Linked DNA regions of Homo sapiens: region 2 is linked to region 1. The links come from fine-mapping of genetic effects on gene expression. A gene starts in region 1. The other region holds a variant in brackets. All regions are shown on one strand. Distances are from middle to middle. Region 1 holds the start of CHRM3-AS2 (CHRM3 antisense RNA 2). Region 2 overlaps CHRM3 (cholinergic receptor muscarinic 3).

What was found. PIP is the estimated chance that this variant, and not a neighbour inherited with it, causes the effect. A credible set is the group of variants that fine-mapping cannot tell apart.
Region 2: its variant is the best candidate, but not a certain one, in a credible set for the expression of CHRM3-AS2 in Th1/17 cells (Schmiedel 2018, PIP 0.56).

The regions. Positions count from the first base shown.
Region 1 is chr1:239,713,357-239,729,334 of GRCh38, forward strand. It overlaps CHRM3-AS2 (CHRM3 antisense RNA 2), which reads right to left and starts at 5,763. Exons shown (of 3, transcript NR_103776.1): 1 at 5,594-5,763; 2 at 821-908. The region is part of intron 5 of CHRM3 (cholinergic receptor muscarinic 3); the gene reads left to right.
Region 2 is chr1:239,687,722-239,703,699 of GRCh38, forward strand. The region is part of intron 5 of CHRM3 (cholinergic receptor muscarinic 3); the gene reads left to right. Among named protein-coding and RNA genes, the nearest start is that of CHRM3-AS2, 23 kb to the right of the region's middle. The variant A/C (reference allele first, on the strand shown) is at 7,704.

The DNA of each region.
Region 1 (15,978 bases):
TGGTTGATATCTTGTTCTTCCTTTCCATCACAATTGTGCCTGGCCCATTGCTCATCAAAGGCTTTTTGAGGAATTAAAATAGGTATGTTGAGGGGAACAAAATAAAATAATAAACAGAACAAGCTCCAAATAAAATGTAAAATGCTGAATGCAACTGTAATCTTATTCTGTTTACTGCATTATTGAAGATGCATTGCTTCTTCTACAATTTGCACAAACACCAACATCACATTGATGAGAAGCATCCCTCTATGTTGGGCTTAGTTATTCTATAGCTCCCATCACAGATCTCCATGGACAGAGAATTTTGCATTTCCCTATATCATACTGTTATGTCAGCCACAGCTGGGGTGACCACTTGTCCCAGTTTGCTGGAGACCTCTGCAGTTTACCTCTGTTGCTGAGGCACAATTATGATTACTCTCTTTCACTAACAAACATGCCTTAGTCTGGATGATAAATTGTGTGATCACCTTATTTAAGTATAAAAAACGGTGTTCCATTAAATTGTTTTATGGACGAGGGACAAAACATAAGCCCAGAGAAATGTATGTACCTCTTTAAGGTTTTAAGCCCTGTTCTTTAAACCAGACATGATGTTAATACGGCAGATTTCTTTCATATCATTTGGGTAATTCATCTGTGTATGCCTAACCAGCAATGCTTACAAAATTAGAAGATGTCTCTCAAGGCCTTAGTTCTTAGACTTAAAACTGCTTTTTGCTTGCCTGCGGGAAACCCAGCCTTCTATTAGTTTTCCCATCTGAAGAACTTCTGGAAATTTCCAGGATCTTCATTCATTAATTCAATAAATACTCACAGAACTAGCACAGCCAGCATGCCATGAGCTCCTGAGTGTGCAGTGGTGAACAAGAATGGAGAGCCTTGGCCCTCATGGAGCTCGTCATCTAAAGAGAGAAACAGGTGTTAGCAATTTTATAAACAAAAAGCTGCTCTTCTGATACTGCACCTAACTCACAATGCTTCAGATAAAAGGTGGCAGTGGAGAGTGCTCTGAGAGCACCTGATAGTGAGATGTGAGCTCATCAAGAATGCTCAGGGGACGTTTCTTCTTGGAAGGTCCAGTTAAGCTGAGACCCGAAAGGTAAATCAGAGTTACTTGGGTGAGGAGGGATGAGCAGAGGCAGAAGACAGCTTGTGCCAAGGCCCTGCGGTAGAAGGGTGCACAGGCACAGGACGGGGAGGAGACAGAAAGGACAGAATTTGCACAAACACATAACACAGCAGGAAGGGAAAGCCTAGTGGAAAATGAGGCTGCAGAAGTAGCTGAAGAGGTAGGGAAGAAATTCAAGTGTTTTAAGCCAGGGGTGATACAATCAGAATTGTGCCTAGAAAATATTAGCTCAGCTCAGTTGTGAAGAATAGACTGAGGGGCAGGAGAACCAGAGTAGGTGAGGTGACAAGGAAGGAGGCAAAATTTGATGAGTTTGGGGATTTTAGATGCCTGATGTCTTGAATGACCTAAGTGGACAGTTGTACAGTGGTAACTACAGCATGTGAGAGAGATGTGAGAGAGACATGGCATTGCATGGGATGAAGATTTTGCCAATAGTTTAAGCTGAGAAAGAGTACTGTGGAAAAACTTGCTAAAAGGTAGACAAATGAAAAGAACCCAGAAAAGAAAAGACCATGGAGGTAAGGGGGAATTCAGGGAATGATGATGTCCTGAAGCCAGAGAAAGAGTGAATTATAAGATGGGAGTGGCTAACAATATCAAATACCACAGATTAAGTGAGTAAAAACTGAGAAGGACCCATTAGGTTTATCAACTATGAGTTACTGATTACCTTGGAAATATCAACTTCAATGAAGAACTGTTAAGAATTAAAGGCATATTTAAATTGGTTAAGAGCAAATGATTGGGTACACACTACATATTTTAAGTAGTTAGAACATAAAAGGACAGAGGGCACTATAACTAGAAGAGGAAATAGGCTATGCACCAGAATTTTTGTCAATGATTTTATTTGTTTTGTTTTGAGAAGGCGTGTGTGCAGTGGTGTTCTGATAAACCAGGCCTCCAGAGGAGAAATAAAAGCTCTAATTTGTAGCTATTACAGATGACCATGGCGTAAATACCGTCACCATGGCTGGAGTAAAACTATCATGGAAGAATGCAGAAGGCATTCAGAATACCTTATTGAATGCAGATTTGAGAAGATACCTACAATTAGCTATCAGCTCCAGTGCACCACCACATAGAAACCAATGGGATGGGAGAGGTTGAAGGTTTGTGTGAGAAGTGGGATTGCTAATAAAACAGATAAAGAGGGAGGAAGGTAGGATCCAGAGTAAAAGTGGGAAGATTAGTTTTGGATAAGAGAAAAGATATCTCTTCTAATGAGTTGGGTGGCAAAGAGTTAGGCTGGAATCAGTTCATAGGGAGGAAAGGACATTGAGTTAATTCTCACTTCACAGGCTATTTTACCTGTAAATTAGGACAGGAGGGCTTTGCTGAGAGTGAGGAAGTGGCAGTTTGTACATACTGTTGGATTGGAAGAAACAGTTAAAGCTTGAAAGAAAAGGAGATGTGGAAGGAAATTTGGACAGTGTTGAAGTCCTAGTGATGTTGAAGACCAGGGCTTTGTACCAGTACCATTCTGCAGAGTCACATGAAGTTAACCAGAATGTAGCAACCCAGGTGTATGAAAACAGACATAAAATAATTGCATTGATCTTGGGTTGAAATTCTGGAGGAAAATGTGGAGGGACGACAAGAATTCAAACGAGAAGTGGGTACTAACAGGAGGATGTTTGAAGTGATAGGCTATGATGTCTAGGTTAAAGAGAGAAGAAAGTAGAGCCAAAGGGAGCTTTTAGAAGTAAAGAAAGTGATACTTTTAGGGGATTTGAGATATGAATGAGGTTGTAGAACTGATGGAGTGGAAATACAAAGTCGGTAGAGTTGAAAAGTTGGTTGGCGCTGTTTAGAGAATAACTTCACAGAGTGAACAAGTATAGAGGTGGCCAAGTTTGGGGTCTCCATGATTGTGACTGGCTGAAGCAGAGTGGAGGTTCAAAAAGACTATTGTAGTGAATAATAGGGAGCTATAAAGCAGGTGCTGGTTGATAATCGAAAAGGGCATTGACGTCATCCAGGATCTTGGGTTGGATATTAAGACTTTAAGCCATGTACCAAAGCCTTTGTTAAATGTAGAAGGCTTCACTGGGACTCCAGCCATTCACAGGGAGAAATGATGTTTACAGCTAAACAGTGTGACTCTCAAAAGAGCCTTTTTTTGCAAGAGAGTGAATAAATAATATTTTTAATTTGGTAATAAGGAAAGCTAACCAGTGGGTCCTAAAATAGAATTAAAAAAAGAAGAGGAAGAGGAGAAGGGAGAAGAAGGGAAAGGAAAGAAGAACCTAAACTTTAAAAAACCTTGCTAGAAGAAGGGAGGGGCCCAAACGTAGCTCAAGGGGAGCGGGGATGTAGCTCTCTGACAAAATGAGAATGTACAGGAGGGTTCATTTGGTTTATTTGTATGTGTATTTGGTTGTTTGGCTTTGTTTAGATTTGTTATTAATAGTTTGTTTTGATTTTAACCATCCATATGGCATATTTGAAGAATACTTGTTCCAGATAATAGTTATGAGATGACATATTAAGGGACAATAATTGAAATGTCCTCAATGCCAGAAAAACAAATGTTCTCAATCACTTCCAGTTTTTTTTTTTGCATGAATAAAGTTACCATGAGTACATTTTCCAAAAAAGAAAAAGTTCAAATGTAAGATCTGAGTTGAATTGTGAGCTTCTCTAACGGTGTTCTTGGATTCATTTTTCAACTGCAAAAGATTGAGATCCTGAATAAGGCTTATGGGTGTATTAAAACTGTGCCCTTGCAGAGGAAGTAGCCTTGAATAGTTATTGGCTTTGAAAGCAACCAGTTTTGTTGACTTAATTATGCTGGTACCAGGAAAGCATAGAATAGATCCTGTTGATAACAAGAGCCATGCTGGACATTAACAGTTTCACAGAGAGTAGTGGGGACCATTTCTTTGGAATAAAGTTGAAACATGTTTCTTAATAGACAACTCTCTCAGCATTATAAAATCCTGATACAGAACTCAAGGAAAGACACACACGCACACACACACACACACATGATTTTTATCGTTGTTATCTTAGTAAATAATGACTAATGTGGTTTTTGGTTGTTATCAGTTGGTTACGGATTGGAGTTAACATTTCATCAGATCTGAGCAATAACCTATGTGGTAAAGTCCTAGTGTGGCAGGAATTTGGGATTCAAGGGGGGTGCTTATATAATCTGCTTTCTTAAGGTAAGGTTTGCTCTTTTATGCTACCTGTCATTTCTGCCTTAAACAATGTCCGGGAAATTCAGCCACACACAACAAAGAACCAGATCCCTCATTTCGGTTCTATCCTTCCTCCTCTAGAACTGACATTCCTTGGGGCCGTGTCCTCAAGTGACGTGTCCTGCTCTAGCTAAATGGCAGTAATCTGTGTTTGACTCCAGCAGTTTATCAAGCTATGTCATTTTATGCCATGTCAGTTTATAGAGAGTGGCACAAGATACAACAGGATAGGGAAGCTGAGTTTTCTATTTGTCTACTTCATTGAAAACATGATTTTGTTTACTGACAAGTAAATGGTATAGGTGTAAGGAAAGAGTAGCAACTACCATATTATTTTGCCAGAATCCTCATGTTACCGTTTCAAAAAATGCCAAGAAAGATGACAGTGCATGTTATAACATCCCTTACAAATAATAGCAAAGCTTTAATCAGCTGCTACACAGACACACTCAGGATTGAAATGCAACCTACTAGGGTGAAACATGACAAGCGGTTCATTGAACACTGCGCAGAAGGTAAATGAAGTGTATATTTTCCAATCACAACTGGAATTTTAAGTGAGTGAAATGGAATAAACTCAGTTTGGAATTTGAAATAAATTCACCATGGAATGTGTCTTAGAGACCAAGGTTTACACTAGCGCTATACAAACTCCTCAGCGTGAAACATGACACAAGGTGAAATTTTCCTGGCATCTTAGAGTCAGATACTGACTTCTGAAGGACCAGGGCACAGACATTTCATCAAGAGCTATTTGTTTCTAATTGGGGAAGAAAATACAGATGTTTATATAATACTCTGGGTCAGGAGTAATATTCCACCTGGTACATGGAGTTTTGTACACTTTTTCAGAGGTGGTATTTCTAGCTGAGTGTTAGCAGTAAAACATTTTCATCAAATTTCCATTCTTTTTTTTTTGAAGCCTACTTGCATAGTTCTAAGGAGTGTCATAGCTCACACATAGTGACACTGATTAGTAAAAATAAGAAGTGATTGAAGAAAACACAAGGAAAGAATCAACTTGAAGTCATTCAGAAGTAACCACTAGTAGCAATTTAACTACCCTGTTGCCAAAGCTCTTTTCTTAAATTACAGATCCTCATGAGCTAGTAAGTTTGAAGGGGAGTCATAAAGAGGAACAGGCATTATACGCAAGGCTGAAGAAGCAGTTGGTAACTAACAGTACATCTTTTTCTAAGGTAAGTTTAAGGTCACAAAAAGACTTAATGTACAGAGTTGAAAAACTTACATATTTCTTAGAAGCTTAGAAGTTATGAGTTTAGTTGGGGCTCCAGGAAGATGCAAGATGCTAGACTCCAAAAAATAAGAGAGAGGTCCAGTGTAGAATAACACTCTATAGATTAAAGGAGGACTCAAGAGTAGAGGAAAAACTTAGCAAAATACAGGGCTATGAGTTAGGTGTTCCTAGTTAGAGTCTGAGTGTCCGGAAATGATGAAATGGGTGAGCTCCAAGAATGCAGGATATGTGAAATTGGTAATCAGATCTACTGGTTTGCTTGTTCTGAGTGTATCGTTAGGGTTTTTGGGGACTGGTGTTAGTGGTGTTGGCAGAATTAGTCCCCTGCTCTTGGTTATACCTGTCCACTTTAAACAGTAGCTTGTAGTTATTTAGCCCTTAATTGCATTCAGGTAAAACCAATATAGCACCCTATAATTCAGCAAATATTTGTTTTCCTGGCAGTATTACAGTTTCAGGGGGCAGTTCTAAGGTGATTACAGTTTCCACTGCTTGGAGCTTTCTGTATATTTATCCTTGGATTAGACTCAAAGTAAGCTGATTTTATCAAGCCACCGGGTAATTCTGACCATTTCATCTGGCGATTTTAGTACGGTATTGTTGCAGCTGACCTGTATACGTAAGGAATTACTGGGTCATCAGCTCTGGGGAATGTCTTTTGATTATGAACACATTTTCAGCATGTGTCCACTGAAGGTAAGGGGCAAAGAATTGCACGATCTACTTGAATGCCTGTTTAAATAGATAAAAGTGGGATTTTGGGCACGGCCTGGTTATATCTTCTTAAACGTAGGTAGTAGAGCCGCAACTCAGCGTAGCAACAAGAGATCTTTTGAACAACTGAACATTCAGATGAAGCAACTATGTCCTTCAAACCACATCCTTCCTGCTGCCTGTGGGAAAGGGGTGATATTTGTGTTGAGCTCTGAGCACATGCAGAATAGATCTGTGTGTATTTCCACAAATAAAAGGACATTGTGTGTGTGTTTGGCACCTGGGATGGCAAAAGCAGTTAATTGCTTCCGAAAGCTTTGTTCCAACCCAGGGATCGGCAGGATTTTTAAGCACTGAACTAGGAACTGGGCACTAAAAATACTTATGCAGAAGACCTATGATAGCAGTAAGTTTACAGAGCAGAGCTAAGACTTGCAAACCGTGTTGTATCTGTGTCTTTACTTACTATGGTTGAGAGGAAAGGATTTACACGCTGCGTTTGCAACCTGCAAAGTAATGAGCCGTGTTGTAGTAACATTTTGAGATATTGTATGTTGTGTTGTTTATATGAGGATCATTCAGAATATATAGAATATAAGTATATGTTTTTCTAAAACAAAAAACTTTGCCCTAGTTTCTTTGCATATATTGTTCACATCATGTTCATATAGTCACTGGCAGTTAATGATTTTTGTCATTTAGTCAGAAACAAAGTAGTGCTCTGCCTCTGAAACCCCAAAAAAACCTAAATTAAAGTAAAATTAAAAGATGTATTAAAATTAAACTTGGATTATCAAAATGAAACAGTAATGCTCTCGTGCCACTCAACGCCAGACTTTTCATGTTGCAGATAGCAAGTGAACAGAAAGCTAAGCATGAACATATTTTAAATGCTCCTGATATTTTCAAATGCTTAATCCTAAGCCTTAAAGGGTTTTATCTATAGAGATTTGGGGAATTTCAGTGTTTCTTTTTCTTATTTTAGATTTCCTGTTAAGTTATTCTCCAGAGTTTTTATATAAAATGCACGAATAAGCATGATTTAACGAGAAGACAAAGTCTTAAGTGCTGTAATTCATGTTGGAAATCATGAGTATTTTTAAGTCTTCTTACTTATAATCAAAGTGGTCATCTCCTGAATATAATGAAAATAAGAGCAAGTGATAGCCCCTTATCTTTATTTAAATATGCTTTATCTGCAGGAGTTTGAACAACTCAGGCAAGGAAATATTTTGTTGAGAGGCAAGATGCATTTTTAAATTTATTTTTGCTTAATATGTGCTCAACTTAAATTGATTTGAGAACATATATTTAAGCAAGGTCTTCATAAATTATTATAAAATGAGAATTGTATATTGTGACATGTTTAATAATCATGATTTTATTCCAGTGATCCAATAAAAGGAGTGCTCAATTGAAGGAATGGAAATGTGTCAAAAAGCCCAAACTCTGCACAGTATAATGATTCCTAATTCTCAAAAAATCCAATGGGTTTTAGTTTCTAAAAGTGATACGATAAAAGAGTACAGAGTCTCTCTCTAATTCTGTGAGTGAAATTCTCTTTAGAGGGAATGCTGAATAAAAAAGATAAGATCAGGGAAAGAGGTGAAAGAAATGTTCTTCTCCAGTTCACCTTACATTAGGAGTCAACTTTTACCCAAGCTCAGGCAAAGTTACTTATATGAGAATCCCGGTACTTCAGGATGGAGAGAATGAGAAACAAGAAAATGATAGGCATGGTATTAAATCTTAGGTATGGCAATTCTATTGAGCAACATTAATGTTTTGGAAGGTTCTAAATCATAATAAGAAGTATGTATCTCATGCATGATACAAATGCATTTCATTAACAGGGAGAACAAGGTTTAGAGCTGAAAGTAAATCAAAGTAAGAGTTTGTATTTTAATGAAGTACAGAAGAGCTGCCCTCCTAAAGGATTGAAAAGGACTCAAAAATGTCCTTTACATATTGTCAGTACAAATGAAGAACATGTATTGAATTAATTCCTACACAGAAAATTCATCATGGAATAGCCAATAGGTATTATCTTTCTACAGTATGAGAAGTACAAAAGAAGTCTTTACTATATAATCTGATTCAGATTATATGCACTCGTGTGTATCATAGGCACTCATGAAACAATTGGAGAAAAATACAAACAAAACAAAGCAATGTAATGGTGTGGCATGAAAAAATAAATATTGCAGCAGGTGAGCGAGGGAAATCAGAGCTGATGTGGGAGATTTGCAGGACAGTGACTTTTTTTTAAGATGCACTTTTAAAAGGGGTGAAATGTGTCCCTTCAACACAAGGCATTCCAAACCATGAAATCCTAGAAGAAAATGAAAAATCATTAATTTGCCAATTCACATTCAGCTTTTGGTTCATGGGACAGGCATTTAGATACAACACAACCTATTTGATCTTCTCCTCCATAAATCATTCAGTTCCTTTAATGTTCCAGCCAAAGTCTGTGAAGCAATGTAACTGCTTGATTTTGTCAGGCGATTTATAAAAATGTAGTCACCTGGAAAATGCTAAAGGGATTGACTGAAACCAATTTTCACTCTTGTGAAATGCATCTTTGTTTCAGTCAGGTTGACTCAATAGCTAACAAAACAGAAAGAACCTGACAGACATGTTTCCCAGTGCCCATTGGCCTTATGTGCCTACCCACTCACATATACCTAGTTAGTTGCATGAACAGATATTATTGCTGTCTCCTCCCCACAAATATTATTTTTGCTACCTTAAAAAGACTTTCCTCTTGCAATTTAACAGTAAAAGGACACAAATAACAAAATCTTAAGACTTAAGTTCTAGTCTTAATATCATTGCCTATAGGAGTTGTGACTTTGGTTTTTAGTTCACATCTCTTAGTCTTGGTTTTTCTTCATTGCATTATTACTCATTAAGCACTCTGAGCAATACAAATGCATTTTCTGCAGTGCAAATGTATTGGAATTGACAATCTTCATTATGTTAAATATTAAGTAGAACTTTGTACAAATAATGCATTTCATTTAGAACTGAGTTAACATATTCAAGAGTGGCATTGAATTCAGAAACTGAATTGTTTCTGGCCTGGACAAGCTATGCATTTATGGTTAAGAACATTCATAAACATGATTGTACCTTATTGAATCTCATATTTCTTATAACTTATTTTTTTCATTGTTAACACATTCCAGGGTAAATATGAACATGTATCAACTAGGGAATATAAAAAATCAAAAGAGAAATAAAAATCAACTAGAATTGGTTGATTATGTCATCACTGTACTAATTCGTTTTCCTCAAAGTACAAAAATTCCATGTTGATGCATATATTGTACCTAGATTAGCACTTGGAGCCAATAGAGACTTTTGAATTTTCTCAGTATCCTCTGCTTTCTATCTCTCATTTCACCTCTGTAAGGTGAGAAATACTGTTGAGTTGGAATGTCAATAATATCTAAACTGGCTTTCATTAATAAGAGGTAACTATGTCCATTTATTTAGCTATACACCAGGCACTAGCACTCAATTACTTGCCAGAAATGCTAAATACATGAAACAATTCTGTTCAATAAGGATAAAACAGTGCCTAAGTAATTTCTATAGGTATTCTAAGGATAAAATAAGGAAAAAAATAAATGCATTCTAAAGTATAATTAATTATAGCTTTAATTTTTAAATGTCAATGTTTTGTCAATATTTTTCTTTGAAAGGTTAACAATGTATATTATCTTAATAGAGATCACATGAATCAAATTATATTTTGCCTTATTTTGGACTGTTTCAACTTTGTCTTTCAAAATAAATAATGGGTCAATAAGGGTTGCCAAATTCAATACTGAGACAAATGTTTATTAAGCTCCCATATGGCTATTACTAAAATGTACTACTACAAATATCTGTAATAATTGCTGCCATATATCGAAAAATTCCTGTATGCCAGACACTGCTTAGTACTTCATATGTTCTGTCTCACCACACTGATCATTTGCAGGATATAAGGTGATTAAATATAATCCCCATCATTTGGGGCAAATTGTATGAGATGTGTGTAGAATTAGAGTAGGAGTTGCTGTGGGTCAACATGACTGGCCCAGGGCTAATACGTTTTAAGGCCCTCCTCTTCTCACCATTTAGCCTCTTGGGATTCTAGAACTTAAAGATGAGGCCTCATAGTATAGGCCAGTAGAAGTTTGCATCCTGTCTGCAGCAGTTCAACTGAGTGCCAGATTGAGAAGCCTGCCAAAACTCCAGGGGCTTTCACCACAAAAAGTAGGGAAACAAACTTCATTTTGTGAATGGGTATATTTTGGCCCTGAGCTGACATTCACTGAAGCCAAGCTGTACAGCCTCTGGTATTCTCAAATATGCTTAAAAACCCACAAACCTGCCTTTTTTTTTTCCATCCAAGTCAATATTGGCCCAAAGTCAGAAGCCTTGCCTTTTTTGGTCATGTTGTAGATGCTGGACCAATGTCGACTTGGTAAGAATGTTGACTTAGGAGGGCATGGACGCATCCTGGCCCTTATAAACCTCCCAGATTTACAGAAGTGCCTCTTGAGCTCTTAATGAAATGAAGTAAGTCTAATTCTCTGTATTAGGTTGTTTATTGAGCAGACTCATGGCAAAGCCCAAAACAGTATACCTGTGGGGCTGATATTGGCAAAGTGATAATATCTTTGTAGTATTCTTCAGATTAAGCTGTTTTCTTTTTCTTTTTATCACCATATATGGTAGTGGCTAAGAGTCAGTTTTAGAATTATGAGTTAATAAATCCAGGCTTTGCCATTTAATTGTTTGTGCATTGGAAGTTTACTTAACCTCACTCTATTTCCCTTAGGTGTAAAATGCATATATCAGTAGGGCTGTTGGGAGGATTCAGTGGGATTATAGAGGTGAAGTGCTTAGCACAGTGTCTGATACATACAGCACACTCAATAAATGCTAATGTGAGAATAAGATAATGTTTAGGGTAAGGATTCTTTAGTTGGGCATTTATTTTCACATAGATATTCCAAATATACCTGAAAGAGAGCTCCTTCATCTTCCTCCCCGTGATCCATTGATGTCTCTGTGTGTCATATTCCAATGTTTTACCAAATTATTGAAGCTAGAAATTCTAATTGCCAGCTCTTTCTTCCCTGGCCCCCACATCTAATCAACTACCAAGGCCTTATGGTTTTACCATCTAAATATGGTCTTGAACTTCCCAGTTCAAGCGGTCCTCCTGCCTCAGCCTCACAAGGTGCTGAAATTACAGTCATGACCCACCCCACCATGCCCAGCCCAGTTACTTATTGTTATATTTAATCTTGTTACTATTCCCCTCTGCTATGCCTGTGTGCACTCTCAGCTGTGTTGCTCTTCCTATTACTTAGCAATACAGACTAAGCACCTTAGGATGGTGTTATCTTTGATCTAGCTGCTGCTTCCTTCTCCAACAACCTATTTTAGACTTAGAAAAGTATTTAGTAAGCTTTATTCTTGTCTGGAGGATAATGGCAGTGTATTTTTCTTTGTTTTGGTAGTATAACGCTAGCATACTTTATGAAATGATTATGTCCTTTTTCTACCATTAGAAGGGTTAAATTGAAGCTTGGGAAACATAAATACCTGTAATTGGTGAATTACTGACCATTTTTTCCCAAAATACTATGTTATCAATGAGTAAACAGATCAGGTAAAAAGCCTGCATATACAAATTAAAATTGAATATATTTCTCCTGAAAATCGATGAAAAGATATTTTTATCTACTAGAGTAATTCCACCGTATGCAGCAGGATATACTTTTTGTTTCTAGTTGCTGGACATGCCTGATGTTTCTATGCCAAAATGTCTCACTGAATAAATAAAGATAACATAATTGCCTCATTTATTAGATTTTAAACTGCTTGACAGGAGAGAGACTGTCTGACAAGTGTGCTTAGAACAGGGCAGAATACTTTGTCATCAATCTGTAAATGCGTGTTGATTGATTGGTGGCCGGGTCATGGATTTTGGATTGTTTAACCAACAGTAATGAAAGCTTTGCTGTCTAGCTAAACGCTTTATAAAGACTCTTTGCCCTGACGTCTGTCTGGAATTTGCAAACTATTTCAAAAAGGTAAAGCTACCTTCTTGGGTAGCTTTGGGTAAAAATAATTTAGACTGGGTAAAAATAATGGCTTGAATTCAAGTGAGCAAATGTATAACTTGATTATGCAGATGTACAGACTTTTCTTAAAATTTATTAAGCAGTATTATAAAATATTACAAAAACACCAGTGTAAATGTCTTTAAACTGCCCCATACTTGTATATTATAGCACAGAGATCAGAAAAATCACAACCCTCAGGTGAAATCTGGCCCATTCCCTGTTTTTATAAGAGAATTTGTATTGGAACACAGCCATGCACGTTCATTTACATGTTGTCTATGACTGCTTGTGCACTACAACAGCAGAGCTGAGTAATTCCAACAATGCCTTTGGAACCGCCAAGGCCCTTTTCTGAAAAGCGTATTGACCTTTGTTCTAGCACATTGTAGATCATGTGCTATTCTAATTATTTTGTGTCTAGATGCTGTTACATTAACATGTAATTTTGGTGCATTGTGAGTCTGTGTAGGTTTTACGCATGCATTAAAATAATACTCCTATGTGTACCGAACTTTTGAATCAAATAATAGTAGATGGATAATATTTTATGAGGTTAATGTGCCATATGTTACAAAACTAGATTCTATTTATTGATCATTTAGTTTTTTTTCCGCCATATTTTCTTACATTGTGACTAATCTTGATTTACCTTTGAAAAAACCTGATGTTCATTTGCCTCGTGGCTGGGTTTAAGCATAACATATTAAAGTAGTTCCTATACCTAAAGAGGTTATCAGGTAGTTGTATCAGGTTTTGTGGAGCTCAGAACTGACTTTAATGGCTTCAGCAATTACTTGTCTGATTCTCTATAAGATGCATGGTGATATCTAGTGTACAGAACACTTGACTGAAATCAATGGGCAATAATTCTGTTTTCTGCTGAATGTAAAATCCTTAACAACCGCTGGCTTAGCTTTTCTTCTGTGAAATTAGACATGACAATAAATGTCTTATTGAACCAGCTTCAAGAAATGGTGTGTTGATGAGACTGTGTGTTTGTTAATAAATAAGAACAATTTCATTATTGCAATCCCAGCATCTAGCAGTACCTGATAGCAGTACTTATTGAATACTCTTTGCCTAAATTAATAATTATACAACTTAAAATCGTAAATGTTCTGGAAAGCTACCATTAACAATAGAACTAGCTTCTAGACTTAGTAACTTTTAGTTTGGTTACTGGGTCCACCACTCACTGTCTCCAAAAATTTACAAAAATCATTTAAGCTCTAAGCCACAATTTTCTCATGTGTATTATAGTGATAATAATAGTACTTATCCCATACAGTTATTGTGAAGATCAAAAAAAATCAAAATAAAGCACTAACAATGTGCTTGACACATAGTCCCTACCCAGTAAATGTAAGTTACTGTCATGTTTCAATGCAGTTCTTAAATGGAGAGCTATAGTCTGCTTTGAAGGTAATTATTCCTGGAAGGTTTTCATTTTCTATTTGGACAGAATTGTTATTCTGAGTAGCCTGCACCTGACCCCAAAAGAATGAATATTAAAATGTATTCTTATTTTAAAATGTCAGTTTCATAATTTCTTGGCCAATTGGACCTTCCACAGTGAGGCACTCTCTCTGACCTTTTTTGGTAGCACCAATTGTTTAAAAGTCTCTATATAATTTTAAAAAGCTTTTGTGCTACTTTTCCTTCATGCTTATTATGAATTTGAAATCGTGTGCTATAAAAAGTATTTGGCTGTATGTGCTTTTATAATGAAAGTAATTTAATTGGGCATTCTGCCTCCACAGATCAGCAAGGGTCAAAATGACTTTTTTAAAGAGAACATGAGAGAAGCATTACAGAAGTCAGAGAGGGTAAAAAAAAAAAGACCTCACCTTTTGCTTTCAGCACCGAATGATGCAGGCTTCATTAAGGCCAGTGGCGAGTCTCGTGTGTCGTGTATTTGCAAACCTGCTCCACTGACGGATACCTTCCCACATGTGTTCCTTGGAGTGGATGGTTAATCACCCCACATCTGTTTAGCTGGTACCTGCACAATTAGACAATCCTGGGACAAGGACACCTTAAGCACATGACACCAACTATCCTTACTCACTATTTTTTTTCTGAAATTCTTGCTGCCCTTGAAGTTTCCTTGTTGAGCTTTTCCAAGATTACACTTGTCGTGCTGTAAGACTACTAGAAAATAAATACTTTTCTTAAAGATGGGACACCCCAATCAAGCTAATTTACATAATCAACTCCTTTTCACACAATGCTGGTAGGATTGTAAACTACCTTTTTGCCCATTGTTGTTAAAGGTTTGCTAGTTTACATAATCTATTCCTTTTCACACAATGTTGGTAGGATTGTAGAATCAACTACCTTTTTGCCCATTGTTGTTAAGGGTTTTCTGGAAGTGGAGCAAATATGCTTCACTCTTAACAAACACTTACTTCACAACATTCCCACTGACAGAAGCTGAATTTAACGTTAGTTTTCATGGTTATATCCCCTTTGAATGAGATTAGGATATAACAGAATGAGACCTTAGGAGTTCGGGCAAAAATACCTGCTTTGTATAAGATGAAAACATGCCTATTCTGTAACCAACTCTCTGATAAAGGAAGTAATGTAGGTACAGTGATTAGGAGAGGAATCGTCTAGAAGACACCATGTCCATCCATCAATATTCCTACTTAGTTTGGTCAAGTGAGTCTTTCAAATCTTTGAATCTTTGTTTGCCTATATATTGTAAGTTCACAATGGTAGTTCAGTTAAGTATTATATGGATAAATTGCTCTTCAAAATATTAACAATAACAATTGACAAGTCTCTATAAAAATCAGCAAAAACGTTATGATCTTCTCATGTAGCTGAAGGTGGTGGAGTTAATGGAATAACATTAATTCATTCTTAAACCAGAATGGAATTTTTGTCACAAGGTCTCTGCTTTTCATTCTAACTTCTACTCAAGGATCTACTAAACCTTTTTGTCAAAGAGTCTCCATTGTGTGCACACACACACACTCACATATACGCCCTTTGAATCATCACAAGCACTTTTATTATTACTATAGATTAAGCCAATGTGGATTCATTCATTCAATCCTTCATTCAAAATGTCTTGAGTGCCCATCGTGTTTAAAGCATTGCCTTGATCAGCAGTTCTCTAAGTGTAGTGTGTTGCCAAGCTGTGTGTTTTCCAGACCCTTTCAGGGAGTGCATGAGATGAGAACACTGAGAATGACATGAACTTTATTACAATACTAATACTCATAAGAACTCACTGTGTTGACATTTGCATTGCTGGTGTAAAAGCAGTTGTAAGTAAAACTGCTGGTCCTTAAGTACAAACCAAGGCAGGGACACAAAACTGTATTAGCCATTATGTTATTCACTACCCCTTGCTCATCACACAGGTTTTACTTTAAAATGTTGGGATGGAGCAGTAAAAAATAATAATAATTTTGTTAAATCTTCATCGTTGAGTGAACATTTTTTTAATATTCTGTGTGCACAGTGTGATGTACACATAAATGTCTGTTTCATACTGAAGCATAATGGTTGTGATGA
Region 2 (15,978 bases), 26 kb before region 1:
TACTGTTTCTATGTTCAGATATGTTTAGATAGCACAAATACCATTGTGTTACAATTGCCTACAATACTCAGTATAGTAATATGTTGCATAGGTTTGTAGCCTAGGAGCAATGGGCTATCCCATATAACCTAGGTATGTAGTAAACTATGCCATCTAGGTTTGTGTGAGTACCCTCTATGATGTCCACACAATAATGAAATTACCTAATGACACATTTCTTAGAACATGTTAATGTCGCTAAGTGATGCATGGATGTATGTTCTTACCACCATCAAATACGACTGCTCTTAAATGTGTCATGAATACTGATGCTTCACATTAATACACAAAACTGCTCTTAAGGTAGTTGCCAGCCTGAAAAAAATTGGGAGTTTTGATACTTTGTTACTTTTTCTTTTAATATATTGCAAGGTTTTTCACTGATCTATTTGCAGAAGGAAAAAAATACATATATATAATATACACATACACATACACATGTATTATATATAAAACACATGCACATATATGTATTATATAATCTATTATTAAATAATATATAATACATATATACACATATATATGTATATGTGGGTATTTTATATATATGTACGTATAGATATTTGTGTGTGTTTGTGTGTGTGTGCATATATATTCCCGTTAATTTGAAAGCATTGTTTTGGGTTTTAAATATATAAATATAAATATGTATATAAATATATATAAATATATTTACATATCATATTTATAAATATATTATATTATATATTATATATTATTCAATATACTATAATATATATTATATATGTTTAATACAATATATAATATTTACATATATTCCCATTTATTTATATAACATATATTATATGATATTATATATTACTCCATATAATATAATATATTATACATAATATATTACTCAGTATAATACATAATATATATAATATATTACTCGGTATAATATATAATATTATATGTTATGCAATATAATATATAATATTATATATAATACATTATTCAATATAATATATAATATTATATATAATACATTATTCAATATAATATATAATACACTATTCAATATAATATACAATATTATATATAATACATTATTCAATATAATATATATTATATAATATATATATTTATATATTTTATTTTTATATATTATATATTTATATATGTATATATAATATACATTTCTAAATTATTTTAAGTCATTTTGTATTCTTAGGATAGTTAAACTTGCCCTGCAATCTTATTTATTTCCTTGCTTTTCATATACAATGAAAGTGTATATGACTTTGGCTTGCAGTATTATGATAAATTCACCATTGATTAAGTCATAATTAAAGATTGCTATTCAAAGATTCAAAAATTAAAGATGGTAATTAAAGTATACTACCTTCTTTCTAATACAATACTACTACATTTATTTACAAATTCTCTAACCCTTTCTATGGGAGTTTTCAATAACAATTAGAGTAAAAATGTGATTTGTTTTAATGTTAATAATCACTAATCTTTTTTGTTGAAAAATATAGGATGAGATTTTTCTCAGTTTACTTTTTTTTCAGAGAAGGATTCTATATTGAAATGTCAAAAATGTAAGATGCAGGAGGATAAGGAACCAATGTTGCCTTAGCTTTGAGTACTTCCTTTGTGCACGCAGAAAGACTGACATTCAAATTTAGGCTAAATGTTGCTTACATAAAGGAATGAAAAAATGAATAAAAATATAAATTTCTCTAAAGTATTTTTTAATAAGAGTTAAAAGGATTACAAAATAGCAGCGTTTGTGAAATAGATTTTTAATATTGCTGCACATTAGAAAACATACAGTTATGCCTCAAATGTATTCAACTTATGTTGGAGGAGGGATTTCGTTTACTTCCACAACTTTGCACTACGTCTTCAGAGAGTTTGCTTTCTCTTTCTCAGAGATCCTAACAGCGGGATATCTATTGACTGCATATTCTGTGCCAAACATTCTTTTAGGCATTGATGCTAACACAGCAAATAAAACGGAAAAGCCTGTGCCTTTGTGGAGGTTATATTCTGGTAGAGGAAGGTGTAAAGTACTAGGATACACATGTAGATATTCCGTGTCCAGGGTACGGATTTCAGTCAGCAGCTGTCCAATTAGGGGAGATTTGGGAATATACCATGTTATTTTATGCCAATTCAAAGCCTGGGAAGAGGCAAGATTGCCCAGGGAGATCACATGGAGTGAGAGGAGGTAAGAACTCTAGGACTGCCCATGCTTCTGAGCCCATAACATCCCAGAACACGCTTAAAGGATCACTTGACACTAAAACAGAGAGAGAGAGACAGAGAGAGAGACACAGAGAGAGAGAGAGAGAGAGACAGAGAGAGTTGTTGGGTGGAGTTCTCCTTTTCTTCAAAGGCAATACATTCTCCTTCTGCCATACCATCCAGAATTTCATGGATTCACATTTCAATTTATTTCTCCAACTTTGTATGAGAGCAAGTTTTTGGAGATATAATACTTGAAATTTCTTTTCATTTATTTTATTTTATTTTAGAGACAGAGTCTCTCTGTCACCAGGCTGGAGTGACGGGATCTCGACTCACTGCAACCTCCGCCTCCCAGGTTCAAGCAATTCTCCTGCCTCAGTATCCCGAGTAGCTGGGGCTACAGGCGTGCACCACCACGCCCAGCTAATTTTTAAATTTAATTTTAGTTTTTTAGTAGAGACGGGTTTCACCACGTTGGCCAGGATGGTCTCGATCTCCTGACCTCATGATCAGCCCGCCATAGCCTCCCAAAGTGCTGGGATTACAGGTGTAAGCCACTGCACCCGGCCCTGAAATTTCTAAATGAATCCCAGCTAGGCAAAATAATCACCAAGAAAAGGGGCTACATTAACATAAATTGAGCATATTTAACACAAATTACTTTCTCATCTTAAGAAAAAAAAATTACTTAAAAATAGGACTATATTTGTCAAAATTTACCCCTTATATGGAAATTCACAATAATTTTCTTCTCTGCTTGGGAAAAGATCATCATTTAAAAGAGCTGCATATGGTTGTTTTTGTTAGTATTCCAAGAAATTCAGGATGTTTGTGTGATATGTAGTGGCTGAAAAATTTTATATATATATATATTTCTGATTCATCTGCTTGTAACAAAGTACCTAAATGTATATATAGTGATCTGAGGAGACAGGATCCAGTGGGTTAATGAGCAATGGCAAAGGATTTGAGGTTGAAGTGATGTTGATGTTTGGACCCCAGCTGCGGGTAGCAGAACAGCAGATACCTTTGGTTAGCTGTAACCATTAGCTATTGGTCTCTAGGCTGGACCAAGGGAAGCAAAGACCTTATATCACTCAGGAAATTTTGCTGGACTCTAATGGGAGGCGTCATGAGCTGAGCTCTTCCTGCTGCTGGGGGAATCCAGGAGCAGTCCCATTCAGGTCACCAGACCCCCATGGTCACAGAGTGAGAGCTGGGCAGTGATGGGCTTCAAGGGCAAATTTAAGATTTTCAGGAAGCAGCTGGCTTTTATTTGAAACTTGCAGGATCCCTTCAGACATATAAAAAGAGATACTGGTAAGTGCAGTGAAGAACTTGCAATGGTTGGGTTGTGAGAGTAATTTTTACAAATATTATGGTTCTGCCTTGGTGTTTGCTCAAAGAATTTTACCTCACTCAACATGTTGTTAGAACATTTTCCTGATTCCTACAAAAAAAAAAGAAAGAAAATATTTTAAAGGTCAGAAGCTACAAGCTTTTCATCATTTAGCCAAGACACATCGATAATATAGTCTATGTATTCAGTTTAAACAAAATGTCAACTTGCGAGAGTAACTATCAAGCTGTTACCTGAAGACAGATTAGAATTATATGAAGCTGTGGCCCTCACGCCTATCTGGAGATCTTATCATATAGTTATTCATCAGTTTTAAATGTTATATATTGTTCCTACGGAGAAAACAGCCACTCATAAATTTAAATGAACTCTAAATGTTTTATGTGTTATTAACCTTTTTTTCCTCAGTCGTGCTAATGTCTCCTAATTTAGATATATACATAAATAGTGAATTAAATGTCTGTCTCCATATTTTGATGTGAAATAGGATGTCTGCTTTAGACTCAAGGCTTACAAGCTCCAAAGGACACACCATTTGAGAATCCCCCCTAAAGACTAAATGTCTGGAAAGATCAACTGTGAAGTCATGAAATCAAAGAGTACTTATTTTAGTGTTTTGATAAGGATCCTGGGGCAAGAGACCCCAGGGGATGATCTCAAAATGAATTAGCGATTTTAAATGTCACCAGTGTCTTACATCAGTTTCCTCGAGACTCCTTTCCAGAAATCTACTCCGGTTTCCTTCCTCCATATCTAAGAAAGGGTCTTGCTCTTAGGCATCTTGAGCAAAACAGTAATATCTTCCAGATAAATAGTAACAGGCTGGTATCAGTCAGGCTGGGAGATACATTTAGGCATGTGTTTTTTGAAGGACCTGGCCTTGTTCATGATGATACACCTCATCTTCCTATGAACTTTGTATATGGATGGACCAGGCTTTTTGATGGGGCAGAGTATCTATAAAGTTTACATGAACTAAGGTCCAAGAATCAACACATTGGAGTTTAAATCTGCTCAGAGAGATTTCTGTATCAACAATAATTAAAAATCTGTGGTTAGTTATTTTTTTAAATGAACTCTCCTTGAGTAAGAAATAGCAGCTGAGGTTAAAGAAGGGACTGTGTGTCTCACTGTTTTGAAATATTGTCATCTATTTTCAAAAATAACATGAAAGGACCACAAGGTAATCCTGCTGTTATACTCAAACCTGATTAGACTCTAATGAGTAAATTGGTTCCATTACTCAAGAGGAACATGGACAATTTGAAGAGGGTTTGCAGGATAATCACAAAAATTAATAACCTAACAAAAGGCAGGAAAAGTTATGAAAACTGAAGTGCTTGCCAATAGGAAATTCAATGATCTTTGAACTCAGGAAGAGCTACTTGAGAGAAGATGCTGATACCGTTTGTTCTTCCTGTAAGGAAAAAAACAGACAGCAACCACCAATGTAAAGGCTTTACACTGGAGTAAGGGAACAGTTTCTCCATGGTGAAACTTGGGAAATTGCAGGAGTGAGACTTAAAGAAAATTGTAGCATTTAATTGTTCAAAGGACCTGGCTAAAGAGAAGACAGATTTTTTCATCTGTTTGTTTTGGCTTCAGTACATTCTGACCTTACGTTGATTCTTTAATTTTTCCAACAGTTTCTATGAATTTTGTTCATGTACTTTGTAAGTGTACATCTTAAGTGCATTTAGGAGTAAGAAACCAGATCACGTGCAGTGTTTGTATCCCTGCTCTGTGTTCATGCACGCCTGTGCTTCCTGCATATTTCCTTCACACTGCTTTGAAGGAGAAGTATGGTAATTGTTACCTTTGGCTCTCTACAAAATCATGGCTACACAGTTCAAAGTAGACTCTCTCCATCCCCTTTTTGTTCATGAAGTTCTAGTAATTCTTAGACTCTTCAGAGTATCATGGTCTGAATTTTGAAACTCCCCAAATTTCTGCATTAAAGCCCCAACCCCCAATGCAACTGTATTTGGAGATATGGGTTTTAGGAGGTAATAAAGCATAAATGAGGCCATAAGGGTAGGATCTCTCTCTCTCTCTCTTCTCATGCAAAGACCATATGAGAAGGTGGCATTCTGCAAGCCAAGGAAGAGAGCCCTAACCAGAAACCAAATTGGCTGAAATCTTGGTCTTGAACTTCCCAGCCTCTAGAACTCTGAAAAATAAATGTCTGTTGTTTAAGGCATCCAGTGGCATTTTGTTATGGCAGCCCAAGCGGACTAATATTTAGAGGCAAGTTTGCTTCTTGACTGTCATAATTATATTATTTTTGAATTGGTTTAATTAGAAGAAACCTTAGAAATTGGATAGCCTTTCCTTGTAATTGTCTCTGTAGAGGTGAGAAGTGGGAAAACCCAAGATAGTGGGGGCAAGGTGAGGGTGGTAGGAAAGGCTGAGGTCAGCCCATAGTTTGACCGTGTCTTATTAGAGTGAAAAGACACTTTGGATATGCCATGCAAGTGAAATGCAGGAATATCCTTTAATTTGGATTCATTTAATGCTTTGGTGATATTAGATTAGGAGATAAATGTGTAGGGTTTCCTTCAATTTCATACCTGATAGGGCTTATTTTTCCAATATGAATAAAAGATATGTTAGCCTCTGGCTAATATATGAATGACAGAAAGCCATATTTCAGAAAGATGATTTCCAATCCCTTTTCATATAGCAATAATTCATCTATTAGATACTGTGTATTGGGGTGCCGTGAGCATTATGCTGTTTGTATGATATGCAGGCTTCAGACCGTTAGATATCTATGGAGCTTAAGAGAATTAAAGACAAAAATAAGCACTCCAAAATATATAACCTAGTTAGAGCATATTTACATATGTCAAAAATAATTGAGCTCTTCCACCTCTCGAACTTGTTTTATTCATAAAGAATTAGATGATCGATACAAACCTAAAAACTTATGATTGTAATGAAGACAATTTCACAGTATCTTGAGGCATGAAGTCAACAATGAATGCAAGATCCTTCTCTGCCTCACTGTGAAAACACAAATAATTTGTCACAGGTTCTAGGGAGCTCATCCATTTCAGGCATATGATTATGCCTCTGCTTCCACACAGTGGCCTTGGGCAAATGAACCCTCTAAGTTCTGAATCTTTAAAACAAGGCTTAACGTTCCAAAAAATAAGGAAAGGTCTTAGACATTATTTGGCAGAAAGTGCTTATGAAATGTGAATTCACTCTTGCATCATGGTGAATTAATATTTTTTGGCTGTTTGGTGTATAACAGTAGAGATGATTTCCCTTCTTCTGATTTAAAAATATTGTATTTCATTTTTACCTTAAGGATCAGAGCTTAAAAATCAAAGGGATTAAAATGTTCCATTTCCTTGCCCATTGGTGGGCATATGAAAATTGAATTGAATAAAAATGGAGTCATCCTTTGTATTTTAAGATAAACAATATCCTAAAATTATCACACTAATCTTAATCTGCATTTTCAATATAAACAAAAATCAGTATCTTTTATTTTAAAATATTAATAATATGTACAGGTTGTTTTAATACAGGCTACACTTTTATTTTTATCAGTCTTTTTTTTAACCTTGTAGAGTCGTGTATTTATTTTTCATTGGTGTCTATGCTGCAGACCAAAAAATGAACCATAGAAATGATGCAAGGAAAGATGGAACTGATTATTGAAATGTTTTACTCTTTTCTGTATACAATTTTATTTTTTTGAGACGGAGTCTCGCTCTGTTGCCCAGCTGGAATGCAGTGGCGCCATCTCAGCTCGCTGCAACCTCTGCCTCCCGGGTTCAAGAGATTCTTCTGCCTCAGCCTCCTGAGTAGCTGGGACTACAGGCGCATGCCACCACACCCAGCTAAGTTTTTGTATTTTTAGTAGAGACGGGGTTTCACCATGTTGGCCAGGATGGTGTCTGTCTCCTGACCTCGTGATCCACCCGCCTCCGCCTCCCAAAGTGCTGGGATTACAGGTGTGAGCCACTGTGCCCGGCCATACAATTTTTATACAGAAAATACCATCTTATTTTTTAATATTTTGTATAGTTTCTTACTATATACACAGTACTAACAAATTAAAATTTTATTTTGTAGATTGTTATTTAGGAAA[A/C]TTTAGCTTACTGCTTAGATATGTTGGCACATTGATATTACTTGCATATTTATTTTGCTTCACTTTCACAAGAAATCTGGGAGATCTTGAGGGGCCAGTGATTAAAACCATCCTCCTTATTTGTCTGTGTTCAGCTATAGTCATTCCCTGGGAAACAATAAAAGCTCAAGTTCAGTTTATGAGCTTCAGTGATAAAAATGCAAAGTTATGCTATAAGGATTTTTAAAAATATTATTATATTTATATAAACTGATTTTTCCCTCAGAGTACTCATAATTAGAGGAAAGGAAAAGGAAAGGAAACTCATTTAAACAATTGTTTTTAAGAGCCAGAAAAAAAAATTTTCATTAGTTTTGAAATATTGCTGGTTTGCTATTCTATAATGAGATTTTGAACTAGACTTACACAGTTATTTAACTTTACTTGTTTGGGGAATACGCTCAAAAATTTGCACAATTCATGTGCACTAAGTACTTCAAAAGTATTTATCTTGATTTTTCCCCTTTGTTTTAGTGAATGGATTACCTGTATACGCATTGTTATATATAGTAGCATTATCTCTGTGTTAAACATCACCTTTTCATGTATGTACTGACATATTCTCTCCTATAACTGTTAATTACAATACAGAGAACATGTAAGCCAGGGCTTGAAGTCGTAAGACATGATTTCTGGTCTTAACTTTGTTGTTTGCTAAATGCCTGGCCTTGGGTGGGACATTTAACCTCCCTAAACTCCAGTTTCTGCATCATTAAGATGGAAATAGTGATAGCTGTCCTATGGCTTGTCAGGATATCTTATATCAAAAATCTTATACCTGTTCCGTGACTTGCCAAGAAATCTTATATCAAGGCAAAAAGTGCTATCTTTTGTAAACTATCATGTGCTATAAAAAGTGCTGCCTTTTGTAAACTGTAAAGTACTATAAAAATTTGCGCTGTCATCTGAGTGACAGTGTAGATGTCTTGGCTGAAGCGTGGACACTGGTGCCTTTCTCCTAGGGTTCATCACTCACCTGTCATTTTTACATGCTTGATGACTTAGGGTAAGATCCTTAAACTGTGTGAGTTTCAACTTCCTCATCTTTAAAATGAGACCTATGAAAACACCCACTTCCCAGGGCCAAAGTACAGTTTGAACAATAAAATACATGGAAAGCACCTACAGATGAGCCTGACAGGTAGCCAGCATTAAATAAATAATTAATATTATCTCCTTTAAAGTACACAGATTCAGTAGCATACTGGCACATTTATGTAGCTGGCATTTGTGCAGACTCAGAGTAATATGAATTATGTGTCAAAAATGTCTTTTATTTTCATCTTGATGACATTTAGTTTTTCTATTAACTGAATAATACACGTTTGCTATAAAAGCTCAGAATATACAGAGAAGCCTCAGGACAAAAACAAAAACCAGCAGTCATCTAAATAAAATCCTTTTCGTTCCCTCTAATTATGACCACTGTAAGGGAAAAAAACTGTTCATTAATAGTACTTTAAAAATTTTTGGTAGCCCAAGGTTGGTTTTTTATCACCAAAGCTTATAACACAAGCTTAAGTCTTTATTGTGTTTCAGGGAATAACTATAGTAAGCACAGGGAACTAAGGATGATTATTTTAGTCACTGGCCCCTCAAAATCTCCCAGATTTCTTGTAAACATGAAGTAAAGTAAATATGCAAGTAATATCAATATGGCAACATGTCTGATATGGTTTGGCTGTGTCCCCACCCAAATCTCATCTTGAATTCCCACGTGTTGTGGGAGGGACCTGGTGGGAGGTAATTGAATCATGGGGGCAGGTCTTTCCCATGCTGTTCTCATGATAGTGAATGAGTCTCGTGAGATCTGATGGTTTTATAAAGGCAAGTTTCCCCGCACAAGCTCTCTCTTTTCCTGCTGCTATCCATGCCACGTGACTTGCTCCTCCTTGCCTTCCACCATGATTGTGAGGCTTCCCCAACTACGTGGAAGTCCAATTAAACCTCTTTCTTTTGTAAATTGCCCAGTCACTGACTAATACAATGTCATACAGTAAACTACCCAAATAAAATCACCATTTAGCATGTTTCAGAAGGAGAAGCATTTGAGCAAAAAATGATATCAGGGAAAATCAAGGCTCATAGATGGCAAGGATAGAAAGGAGATGGGTTTGAGTGCAGAGAAACCAGTCCCTAAGAACCGACATCCAGCAAAGGAGGAAGAATTCAAGACACATAAGAGAGAGGGAGGCAACAGACATTTAAAACTACAGTAGTTTTAAAAAGAACTGAGAATTGCTCCACTACTCCAAAGGCCGAAGAGCTAAAACCTGTGGCCTTGCTTAGGGTAGAGTTACAGTGGTTTCCCCATTGCCTCCCATAGTATTTGGCCACTTTGCTGGCAGGATTGTCTCCAGAGTGGTTTGTAGAGAGGTCTAGAGGTACACATAGAAACCACCTTCCAGTTCTTTCTTCAAAAAATAAAAGTAAAATAGGAAAGAAAACAATTCCCTGAATCATTTTCTTCATACTTGTGGCATCAAAAACCACTGTCCTGGTAGATGATGAGAGAGAGCTGGCAGCATAGAAAAGTAAGGGTGGAAAGGTGACTAAATTTCATGTCTCTGGCTTTATGCAGACAGAATGAAGAATTATTCATACACAGGAGCAATTTTTAAAAAGAGATTCTGAGAAAGAACTGACAAGCCAAGTTTGTTAAATTCGTTTTCTAAAAACAGGCATTAAAAGGTAATTATTATTTTGTAAAACTGTGTACCGTGACAGGTATTATGAATGCTGTGATGTCTATACTTGACATTACTACATAATTAAGACTAGATTATTTCAAATCTTGAGAAATCACTCTCCTATTTCCTTCTCAAAGGTCATTATTTCTAAGTCATTAGTCTACAAGGAAATATTAGAGTACTTGAATAGCATATAGGAAAGGAGCTTACAAGTTTAAAGCAGATTTATTCTTTAGATGCTGCAGGAATTTGATTTACAATTGTGGACCTCTCAAAAGGCAGGAACATGCATATCTGATATCTTGACATTCTAGAATTCTACTCAAACACTTCATCTACAAAGAGTGAAAGTGAATCAATTACATTTCTCATTTTCTGGAAGTAAAATACTTAACACCGTAAGACTATTAAATTGATCAGCAGTGCATAGCATTTCAGATACAATAAATGTATTAATAACATACTTCCAATCAAGCATATACACTTTTGGCAAAAGTCAATTCTTCCAAATATCAAAGGCTGATTTTCCCATGGTCACCCAGAGTATCCAGCTGCTGTCTTACTGCAGAAACATTGAGTTTAATAAACGCTTACTGAGGGCCAACCATGTGTCCTCTGAGCTCTGACCAAGGTATACAGGTGCCATCCCTCCACATGACCAGGATCTGCATTGTCTGTGTCCTTCTTGCCTCACAGACCCACTTGCACTTCAAAAGTAATAGAATAGTCTCTGAATCAGTTCTTCTTGATGAGTTGACATGCAGGTATGTTCTCACACACTTACTTCTTTCAGCATAATTCTAAAACTGTATATACATTTTTATTAAAACCTGGAAAGTAAAGAGTTTTAAAAAGAAGAAAAAAATGAGACCTTCATAGTTTGTCATACTGAGTCAACCACAGTTAACATATTGGCATTTTTCTTTGAAGAGTTTTTTTTTCTAAGTTTTTCTCACCATGATTTTAATAATATTGCATGTGTTGTTTCTGTATTCTTATTTCATGTATTAAAAGTATGTTCTGTTTTACTACATAGTTTTGCAAAACTCATTTTTGAGTAGTATTATGGACTGAGTTGTATTCCTCCAAAACACATATGTTGAAGCGTAACTCCCAGTGTGATGGTATTTGGAGAGGGGAGTTTGGGGAGGTGATTACCCTTAGATGAGGTCCAATAGGATTAGTGCCTTGGTTCAATGCCCTCTTATAAGGGATTAGAGCCCTTATAAGAAGAGATAGCTATCTCTCTTTGTCTTTTCCTTCACACTTGCACAAAGAAGAGGTCATGTGAAAATGTGTTGAGAAGGCAGCTGTATTTGCCAAGTGACGAGAACCCTCACCAGGAATTGAATGGTCTAGCATCTTGATCTTGGACTTCCCAGACTCGAGCCATGAGAGATAAATTTCTCTTGCTTAAGTCACCCGATCTGTAGCTTGAGCAGACTAAGACAAGTGGCTATATCATGTGTTGTTTAATTATTTCTGATTGTTCATAACAATAAAATTAGGATGTATGTCTTCATACATAAAGTATTTTTGTGTATTCCACATTACTTCCTTTGTATAAATTCTCAGAAGTGGAATTATTTGATGAAACATGGAAACACTGACTAAATGTTTACAAATTGGTTATAACAAATTGCATACCCAAAAGAATAAGGAAAACATATCTCTGAAACCTAACAGCATTGAACCTGAAACTGTGACCAAAACTCTCTAAATTATTAGTTAGACTATCCGAACTATATTTGATAACACCCTTAAGAAAATAGGGAAGAAAATTAGGTTTATTTTCTGTTGTCTTTACTTTTTTTCTAGTCTTAATTTTCATTCTATTCAGCAGGATTCATTTTCCATCACTCTGGAAGGAAAAAAGAAACCTGAATTCCTATGCCTTCAGATATTTAATTAATTTTTTTTCATGGAAGAAAGGTGATATCTGATAAACAGATCCTCATAAAAGAAATACTAAGTAACAACTACTGGACTCTTTGCTCATCAACTTGTATACCTTTCTATCGAGGTACCAGTGTTCCCTTTTATTCCGCCATTCCTGAGAACTGGGTGTGATATAATGTTAGAATCTCAGCTTTCAAAAGGATCTTGGGGCTATCAACCTCACATCCCATCTAATATATGCCATTCCGTCTATAACATCTTCAGCAGGTATCCATTTAATGTCAGCATGAGTACGTTCAGTGACAAGGAGCTCACTATTTCACAAGTCAGTCTAATTTACAGATATTCATCTTTGACCATTGGAAAATTGCCCTAAAAAGCAAGTCCCAAACTCTGAAACTTCTATGCATTAATGCTGGTACTGCCCTCTGACAGGATCATGAAGAACAAATCTAATTCCACTTTCACTTGATAACCCCTCAGAACTTTGAAAAGCGCTATCAAACAAGCCTTTTCCTAGGTAAACATTCTCAGTTCATCCCCTGTCCCCTGCAGCATATGCCTTTAAGTCCCACTGGCATCTTAATGGGCATATTCCTATTAGAGACAGTCATGCACCTGTAGCCCGCAGACTCGTTTTTGGTCCTTGAGTGTTTGGGAGGAAAATTAAGAAAGATGTGTGGGACGTTATTTCTTTAGTTTGGCACACTCCTCCTGTTTTCTTACTTAAGAAGTGTTTCCTTATCTAAGTTACCTAGCGGCTTTGGGAAGTGTTCCAGTTTGTAATTTGTGTGTGAAAGGGCAGCTCCTGTCTATCATACCACCCTGAATGTGCCTGATCTCATTTGAAAGGGCAGCTCCCTTGACTGGACCCGTACTGTAGATATGATGTGAACAGCCTGGAGGAAAAGAGCTACCATCTCCCTTATCCTAACTATATTCCACTAATGATTAAAACCTGTGTGACGCTTTTATCAGCTGTTTCTACCCTTTACTTTTATTTACCCTTCAGTTGTCTTCTTAATAATAACTAAAGTTCCTAAGACATTTTCTGACTGATTGGCAATCCAGTTGACTAAAGTTCTCCACTCTTTTACTTGTGCAGTTAATTTTTTGAACCTAAGCATAGAACTCTGCACATAGTACCACTGACCATCATCTTCCTAAAGTCAGTTCAACTAGGCAGAATTTTGAGGACTTTTTGGTCCTCGTTCTACCAGTTCTTCACGGGATTGTGTGGTCTTCAGACAGCCTTCTCTCTCTAGCATGTACTGATAAACTAATGAGCAAGACCAGACAGAGGGGTGCCCAGAGGCATGGCGCTGAAAACCTTTCCGTTTCCCACTGGGTCCTCCATGCTTCTTTCTCTTCTTTGAATCTTTCCTCATTCACCAAGAATTGTCACCAAGGTGTGCAAGATCTGTCCTTAAAATGACTGTCAAGTTCTCCTCCTTGTTGTCATGATTGACAGCTGTCCCTCATCAAATTAGGCCTAGAGTTGTGCCAGTAATTACCTAGCTCAGCTATCTGGCTCTTACCTCTCACGTTCTCATCCATCCTGCATAACATTGCCTGATCATTTTCCTAAAATATCACATTCATCACGTCTCTTCTGCTCCTGATCTTTTAATAGACTCCAGTTAGAAATGCAGATCCCTCTGTGTAGAGTGCATGGCCTCAGTCATCTCATTCCTTCCTAACCCACCCATTGTTCTATGCAGCCTGGACTCCGATCGCCGTAGGTATGTTTGCTCCTTCTCACCCCATTCCTCGCTCATGCTATTCCTTCCATCTGGAATATTCCTCACTCTCCTTATCAACTATCCAAATCTTATCTACTCTTTAAAGGCCAGATTTCAACCTCTTTTCTCCATGTAATTTATTTGCTTTTGTTTATGTTAATCACTCTAAGTCAACTCCTAATGTCTAGATAATAATTTTTCTATTAATATTATCACTTTATAGTTCTAGTCATGTCAAGCTTCTTCTTCTGGGCTGCAGGGAAGTTTCCTCGAGGAGAAGCAATTTCATTCAATGCTTTGGTAGAAACCGTTTTTCCTCAAATAGCATTAAACAGATGGTTGATGCTTGGTGAATGTTGCTGCTCTTTGGTTGACTTATTTACCTTTTAAAGGAAGGTAGTACTTAAATTCGTCACTGATCTTGGAATTTCAAGTTGAGGATAACATTTTGGGGTAATTAACCTATACCCAGTTATTCTAACAGTATTTCTGAAGAGCTGCCTACTTGCCCCCAAAACATGGGTGTTTTGGATTCAGTTCTGGCATTTATATCAAGGGAGGATGCTGCTGTAAGTTCTGGTTTTGCAAACACTGTACACAACTTCTTCTGTTTGCTAAGTAATCTCCCTCTGGGTGCTACTCTGAGCTAACTTTCACAAATGTTCATTTCACTTGTAAGTCTAGGAAGGTAAGCATTGTCTTCTTCCCTTCCCAAATAAAAACTTTAGTATTATAATAGCTTGCAGAAAGTTTCTGTCTGGCATATTAACTTAATGTCTACCATTTACAAAAAGAAAATTCACCTCTCACTTTGCTTTTTTCTTTTTCTTCAGACAGAGTCTCACTCTGTTGCCCAGGCTGGAGTGAGCGCAGTGGCGCGATCTCAGCTCACTGCAGCCTCTGCCTCCTGGGTTCAAGTGAGTCTCATGCCTCAGCTTCCTGAGTAGCTAGGATTATAGGCATGTGCCACCAGGTAATACGATTTTAAGAAACAAATTTAATTCACTTAGTTATATATTTCTGTGCAGACCTGAATTCCCATTCAAAGAAAGTAGCCTGTTACAGGTAACTTTCTTTGTGTGTCCTGATTCATAGTATATTTATTTTAGCAACATCTATAATCTATAATAGATACCATGTGCAAATTGATAATATTTTTAAGTGCTTCACAAATCCCACAGACTGCTATTCCACTCTCCCATGTCAGATATTGTTAAAATTAATTCAAAGTAGTATCACCACCCCAGAAATATATTGATTAGGCCCCCCAACTTTAGGCTTTATGGCAGTGGGCTTGATGTTCTAAAAAGAGAGGAACATTGATAAGCCATACTTCTATTCTCCTGGGAAATTCTTTTTTGCTCAATTATCTTACAAGTTCACATCAATTTCTTGTTCCTCAGGTAACAGAGGAAGTTCCTAAGTTGTCTGGAGATTGCATGTCCTCACACACTAAAATCCTCTGAGCTGAATGATTCAGCTTTCACTATTGCTGTGTCTGTGGACAAAAAAGCAAAATGTGAGTCAATTCCAGGTTCCGTCACATTTGGGAGTTGCCAAGTAAAGGAAAACATAAAAGATTAATGTTATTATTCTGATTTTATTTTGTTTTGAGGAGAAGCGTGGGAAATGACTACCATACAAATCAAGAAATTCATGAAGGCAAACAGTTGATGACTGTCACCTAGCAATCTGTTATTTTCTTTTATCCTTTCCCCAAGACATATGCCCTCTGACATAAGCATTAAAATCAAATTATACAATTGTCAGAAAACCTGTTCTCAAAGCTTTAGGGTAAAAATTGTTTAATCAAATTGTAACACAAATTGAGAAATATCATTAAAGTGATAATGCCATCCTGTAAGAATTGCTGAATCTACTTGAAGTTTGTGTTTGATTCACTCT